2 separate regions of the Homo sapiens genome follow, and region 2 is reported to be linked to region 1. Evidence: microRNA targets listed by miRTarBase, many of them from high-throughput screens and not tested one by one. Region 1 holds a microRNA gene; the other region holds the end of a gene's coding sequence.

Region 1 (3,503 bases):
ATGGGTCTGGGAGCCTGGAAAAGCTTCATAAAGACACCAGTGAGAGGCAGGCAGAGACCAGCAGCAGGGTCTACAGCCGTGGCCGTGGTCAAGGTGGGCTCTTCTTTGGGTCCACCGAGCCTAACAACCGGGCCCTCTTACCTGGGGAGAGGAAGGTGGAGGCTGAGGATGGCAACTTCCGGGGGCTCCAGGCCTCGGCCTCGGCGGGTGCAGGGATGCTGCTGGGCCTCGGGGCAGTGGTGCCTGGGGACGGAAGCGGGGCGGGAGGGTGCCCTGGGACGCCAAGGAAGGAAAGGAAGGTTGAGGCCCGGGTGGGGGAGCCCCGTGGGGCCCGCCGGCCTCCCAGCCGTGGGGTGCCCGGAGTCCCGCGCTCACAGGCTGTGATGATGTCCCGCGCACGGAGCAGCTGCAGGTGCGTGAGGATGTGCACGAGGTCGGCCACACGGGCGTTGCGGTTGATCCAGGGCCACAGGACGCTGGCCGTGCGCTGCCCGGAGCGCTCGCACAGCCGCAGCTCGGTCTGGTCGCGCACGATCAGGGCGGCTGCGGGGCGGGGGGCGTCAGGCGTCGGCGCCAGGAGCCCGCGCGCCTCCCGCCCCCCGGCAGCCCGCCGCCACCCACCGAACTGGCACCAGTCGGCGGGCTCCAGGGCGTCCATCACTTTGTAGAAGCGGCACATGACCCAGGGCGGCACCTCGTACAAGAAGTGCTGGGCGCCGGGGGCTGCGGGCTCCCCCGGGCCCGGCCCCCCGGCCATGGCTGCCGCCGCCGGGCCGGGACCTGCCGGGGCCTCTCAGGGCCGCGGCGGGCGCGGGCCTGGGCCGGCCGGGTCCGCGGACACTGACTCACTTCCCCTTCGAGCCGGCCTCGTGCGACGCCCGGCGGGGCGGAAGGGGCGGTGCCCGGGCCCGCCGCCATCTTGCGCGCCGCGGCCGCGCGCTGGGTCACACGGGGGCGCCCCGCGCCGGGGAGGGCCCGGGTCCCGGCGGGTTCCGCGAGCGGCGATCGGCCTCCCGGGCTCGCCCGGGCGGGGCTCTGGAGGACGAACGGCGGCTCCCGGCGTTGGGGACAGAGGGCAGGGCGGAGGCCCGGGCTGCTCGGAAAGGGGCCGGGGCCGGGCCTTCCGAAAGCTCCTGGGCGGCCCTGCCGGAACCCTGCTCTCCACTGCGGCCTGCAGGGCTGTTACCAGGAGCCCTGCCTGCCCGCCCCACGTCTAGCCCCCTGCACACGGCAGCAGCCTTGAGCCATTCAGTCTCCTTAGGTGTCCTGAAATATGCCGAGAACGCTGCCCGCCACAGCCGTGAGTGTATGCGTTGCTGCTGCCCCAGCCCTCATTTGGCAAGGGTGAGCTCAGGCAGCTGTGGTGAAGGCTTCCTGAGCCCGCCGGCAGAGCTCCTGCCACCCCGTACCTGTCCCCTCCTGGGCATCGTCCTTGATTACTTGTCTGGACCGCCACCCCCGGTCCCCGCCCTGAGATGGGGAAGACCCCACAAGCAGCAACGCAGACTTACTCTTTTGTTTCTCCAGCTGGATGTCTCCTCCAGCGACAGTTCCCCTTGCCCTCTTGATCCTGACAGCGAAGGGGTTCCCCACCCCTAGCCCTACAGACTTAGGACTTTTCCTAGAAACGAGAAGTGCCCAAGGCCCACAGCTGGCCCCTGTTGGAGTCTCTTTCCTGAAGCCACCACCACTGTGGCCACTCCCAAGGAAGATGCCAACCATACCATGAAACCCATGGCTTCTCACGGGACAGACTTTACTGAGATGTACCAACTCAAGTATCTGAAATGACTGCACACCCATGCTAACCTCCACGGGGGCACTTGGTCCTACTTACACACAAAGGCCCATCAGCTCACGGAACAGGGCTGGCATACGAGATGCTCAATGCATACAAGTTGACTTTTCAACCCTGGGATCTACCTTTGAAGGCCAGGCCTTCCGAGGGTACCTTCTAGCATGTGCATGTGAAGCTGGACTCCTTTGAGCAGTTGTCTCCTCCAGCCCCTTACCAACCTGGTGAGGCTGCTCCTGAGAGCCAAGGAAGCCAGTAACAAGGGGGCCCCCTTTGGGCAAACCCCTCAGCCTGCCCTTGCCTGGTCAGAGAACCACGTTAGCAGTCAACAGAGGGCACGTGAGGGTCCTGGCCAGAATGAGACACAGGAGGAGCCACAGCCTGCGGGGGTGGGGGTGTCCAAAAGCACCACAGCACATCCAGACCTAGGGGGTGCCCCTACCATACGGGTCTGGAGCAGGGAGGTTGTGCTGCAGGCTGACTCATGCCAGGCCCTTCCCGTCACACGCTGGAGCAGTGTGCCTGGAGAGCACTGGCTTGGAAGAAGCTGAGGGGCCAGCGAGGCCAGCATATGGAGGAGGCTTCCCTTGGCCGCTCGTGGCAGGCCTGAAGGCAGCTACCTGTGTCCAGGGACAGCCAGATCCAATGAGGAAACGCAGCACCATGCTGTCATGTGAGCTGGAGGGGGACTTCTGTCTTATAATGAAAGCCCAGACCTTGAGTCACTTTCACAGAGAGATTTATCGAGAATGCTAACAGCACAGGATACAGTACTTCCCAACAAAAGGTGCAAACGCGTCACTTAGAAAGGCATGCTGAGTATTCTTTGCTTTCACATGTATTAAAAAACTTACAAAAATAAAATAAAACTGCGTGCTGCCCATCTTTTCCAATAGTAAAAGAACCTTATGAAAAAATCACTTGATTTTTACAACAAAAGACACAAACGGACATTTTTATGTAAATTTATAAGGCAAACTCTTTATATAATAAATAGGTTACAGGGATTCAGTGGGGGGGGGGTGTTTTTGAAACGTATACAGGTACATTCAGACAGGTTTACTGAAATGGTACAAATTTCCTTAATAAATTGCCTTTTGTTTTTAAATATATCAGTGCTTTCAGTCATTTGGCTATACACAAAGAACCTTTTTTCTGAACACTACAAAAAAGCAATCAATAATTTTTGTTTTTAAAACGACCTACTTATTTTCTAAAGTAATTGTCCCAAAACACAAAAACTGAAGGTGAATACGATACAGGGCTTTTAGAGACATCTCCAGCTAAGTGTGTCCCGGCCTCTCCCTGTGCCCCAAGTGCACCTCTCCCAACCTCAGACAGGTTTCCAGGCTGGAGCCAGCTCCCTTCTGCACAGGGTGGCCTGTGTTACTGGCAATGCTGTCCATAGCTCTCGGCCTCTGGGCTGGCACAGGGGAGCATGACTTCAACTCAGGAGGGGGCAGACACCCTGCCTAGCTCTTCCAGATGCTGCACCCGGCATGCAATGGTCACTACAGTCAGCACTCTCCGCCTCTCAGAGGAGGGAGGGGCTGTCAGGTGTTTTGGGAGCCCAAAACCATGCCTAATGAGGGTAATGGCTTTTCTAAGGAGATGTTTTCGCCATGGAATGGGAAGGGGTTTTCTCACATCTAAGTTTTGCTGGCGATCGGGTGACAGCCAAGAGAGTGCAAGCCCCCTCCATGGTCAT
Region 2 (3,000 bases), not on the chromosome of region 1:
GTTCACGAATCTTCCAACCTTCTCCGTCCCTGCCCCCTCCCCCACCCTCCCCTCCCCTCTGTCTCGCCCTTTCCCCCATTCCCAGCAGCCGCCGGACGCAGGCGAGGCCGACAGACCTACAGCCGCTACCAGACCCTGGAGCTGGAGAAGGAGTTCCTATTTAATCCCTATCTGACTCGTAAGCGGCGAATCGAGGTATCGCACGCCCTGGGACTGACAGAGAGACAGGTCAAAATCTGGTTCCAGAACCGGAGGATGAAGTGGAAAAAAGAGAACAACAAAGACAAGTTCCCCAGCAGCAAATGCGAGCAGGAGGAGCTGGAGAAACAGAAGCTGGAGCGGGCCCCAGAGGCGGCGGACGAGGGCGACGCGCAGAAGGGCGACAAGAAGTAGGCTTCAGCTGGGACTGCCAGGGCCGCGGCCGCCCGCACGTCCGCGGGTCCCGGCCGCGCCGCCGCCGCGCGCCCCTGCCCGAGAGAGCTCTGGCCCCGCTAGCGGGGCCAGGAGCCGGGCCTCCCACCGCAGCGTCCCCCGCCGCGCCAGTCCCCGCTAGTGGTAGTATCTCGTAATAGCTTCTGTGTGTGAGCTACCGTGGATCTCCTTCCCTTCTCTTGGGGGCCGGGGGGAAAGAAAAGGATTTAAGCAAAGGCTCCCTCGCCCTGTGAGGGCGAGCGGCAAAGGCCCGGCTGAGCCCCCCATGCCCCTCCCCTCCCCGTGTAAAAAGCCTCCTTGTGCAATTGTCTTTTTTTTCCTTTGAACGTGCTTCTTTGTAATGACCAAGGTACCGATTTCTGCTAAGTTCTCCCAACAACATGAAACTGCCTATTCACGCCGTAATTCTTTCTGTCTCCCTTCTCTCTCTCTCTCTCGCTCGCTCGCTCTCGCTCTCGCTCTCTCTCGCTGCGTCCTCATTTCCCCTCCCAATCCTCTCTCCCCTCTGCAACCCCCCAGCTCGCTGGCTTTCTCTCTGGCTTCTCTCTTTTCCTCCTCCACCCACCCCCTTTGGTTTGACAATTTTGTCTTAAGTGTTTCTCAAAAGAGGTTACTTTAGTTAGCATGCGCGCTGTGGGCAATTGTTACAAGTGTTCTTAGGTTTACTGTGAAGAGAATGTATTCTGTATCCGTGAATTGCTTTATGGGGGGGAGGGAGGGCTAATTATATATTTTGTTGTTCCTCTATACTTTGTTCTGTTGTCTGCGCCTGAAAAGGGCGGAAGAGTTACAATAAAGTTTACAAGCGAGAACCCGAGACTGGCCCGGCCAGCGCTCCTCATTTGCTCCCGGGTGCCTTGCAGAGCCGGTGGGGAGCCTGTCACCGGGCTCCTGCGCCTGCTGAGGCTAGGCTGCAGAGAGGAGGGGGCGGGGGCTGGAGGCAGGTGGTGCGAGTCCCTCGGCCCAGGGGCGCTGGGGGTGAGGGAGGCGGCTGAGCCTGATTGGAGGAGAGAAAAACGAGGGAGGGGAGCCAAGAGAAACCCCCTCCTCTCGCGTTCCGAGGCTGCCCGGCCAGGGAGGCCAGGGCGCCCAGGCCACGCTGGAGACCTGCGGCTGGGCTGGTGGCTGTGTCCCCCGCCACCTCCCTCTTTGTTTTGCTGTGTGTCCTCCCAAGATGTGTGTCGGGAGGTGGGGTGGGGGGCAGGCATAAAGGTGGAGTGCAGGCCTGCTGAGCATACTTTTTTTCCCTCGGACTGTTGTTGTTGGGGGAGCAGGAGGAGAAGGGAGACCGCTCTTCCCTGCCTCTCCCTCTCAGGGACTTGGCCACCTTCGCTCTGTTCTGAGGCCATGGCTCTCTGCCTTCCTTCCTTCGCTGCCTCTGCTTCTCTGGTAGTCACGCTCCACTGAGGCATCCGCCTCCGGGAACCGGGAGAGCAGCGCGCCCGGGCCAACCTCCACCCTTCCTTTCTCTCCCCACCCTCCCAACCCCCTTTTTCTTTTACTTTCAAACCTTTTTTTTTCTTTTTCTTTCTTTCTTTCTTTTTTTTTTTGCCACCAGAAACGGCAGCGTCCAAGGCCCGTGGGCTGGATCCTGTGCCCTAGGAGCACCTAGGAAGACTTGCTCCATCTCCGCCCGCATATCTGGGGCACCAAGAGAGACAGAGTCGTGAGCCAGGCTCGCCTCATTCCTCGTCTTGGGAGAACCGGACCAACTTCCCCAAAAGGCCTTGCCGTGCAGAATTGGCCTGGTTTAATAAAGAACAGACCTGCCCCAAGCACCCACCCACCCAGTTGCGTGCATTCAATCCCTGCGTTTGTCTCTCGCTCGGTAACGGGCTGAAGAGGATGGGTGGAGGGTGACACGGATCGCCCCGAGGTTATTTATTTTCCCTTCCACTCAATCTCTTCCTCCCCAAATCTCGCCTGCAAGCGGCCTCCAGCCCGCGGGAGTCGGCAGCGGCCCTTGAGCCCCCAGCCCCAATCCACAGGGCTCGGCTTTCCCATTCATTATTGATCATATTTTATAAATCCAACGCCACACAATTTTTTCCACATTACCGGGAGCCGTGGGGAGACGGCCCGGCCATTGGCGGAGGGGACGTCACGTGGGCGGGGTCACGTGGTCCGGAGAGGAAAAAGGGGGTCCTTTTTGGTGTAAATCTGGACTCTAATTCTGTAATATATCAAGGAATCTCGTAAAACCGACACTAAAACGTCCCTGCCTACAAATCATCCGGCCAAATTATGAGTTCATTGTATTATGCGAATACTTTATTTTCTAAATATCCAGCCTCAAGTTCGGTTTTCGCTACCGGAGCCTTCCCAGAACAAACTTCTTGTGCGTTTGCTTCCAACCCCCAGCGCCCGGGCTATGGAGCGGGTTCGGGCGCTTCCTTCGCCGCCTCGATGCAGGGCTTGTACCCCGGCGGGGGGGGCATGGCGGGCCAGAGCGCGGCCGGCGTCTACGCGGCCGGCTATGGGCTCGAGCCGAGTTCCTTCAACATGCACTGCGCGCCCTTTGAGCAGAACCTCTCCGGGGTGTGTCCCGGCGACTCCGCCAAGGCGGCG

What was found. Region 1 holds the annotated microRNA hsa-miR-718 (CUUCCGCCCCGCCGGGCGUCG, at 873-893, opposite strand). A microRNA usually pairs through its seed, bases 2 to 8, with sites in the 3' UTR of a target mRNA and lowers its output. Matches are read on the target gene's strand: a 7mer-m8 pairs with bases 2 to 8, a 7mer-A1 pairs with bases 2 to 7 and ends in A, and an 8mer does both.
Region 2: the mRNA of HOXB8 is a reported target of hsa-miR-718. Seed matches in the 3' UTR shown: 7mer-m8 at 1,210-1,216.

Annotation. Positions count from the first base shown.
Region 1 is chrX:154,019,056-154,022,558 of GRCh38, forward strand. It overlaps MIR718 (microRNA 718), which reads right to left and starts at 934; the gene lies at 865-934. IRAK1 (interleukin 1 receptor associated kinase 1) reads right to left here and starts at 847. Exons shown (of 14, transcript NM_001569.4): 1 at 622-847; 2 at 376-543; 3 at 142-273; 4 at 1-23. The coding sequence starts at 757. MECP2 (methyl-CpG binding protein 2) reads right to left here. Exons shown (of 3, transcript NM_001110792.2): 3 at 2,518-3,503. RefSeq lists silencers at 217-286, 297-396, 747-1,126 and enhancers at 812-1,781, 1,897-1,966.
Region 2 is chr17:48,610,595-48,613,594 of GRCh38, reverse strand. It overlaps HOXB8 (homeobox B8), which reads left to right. Exons shown (of 2, transcript NM_024016.4): 2 at 86-1,249. The coding sequence ends at 393. HOXB7 (homeobox B7) reads left to right here and starts at 2,578. Exons shown (of 2, transcript NM_004502.4): 1 at 2,578-3,000. The coding sequence starts at 2,677. RefSeq lists a silencer at 1,402-1,451 and enhancers at 1,245-2,065, 2,066-2,885, 2,886-3,000.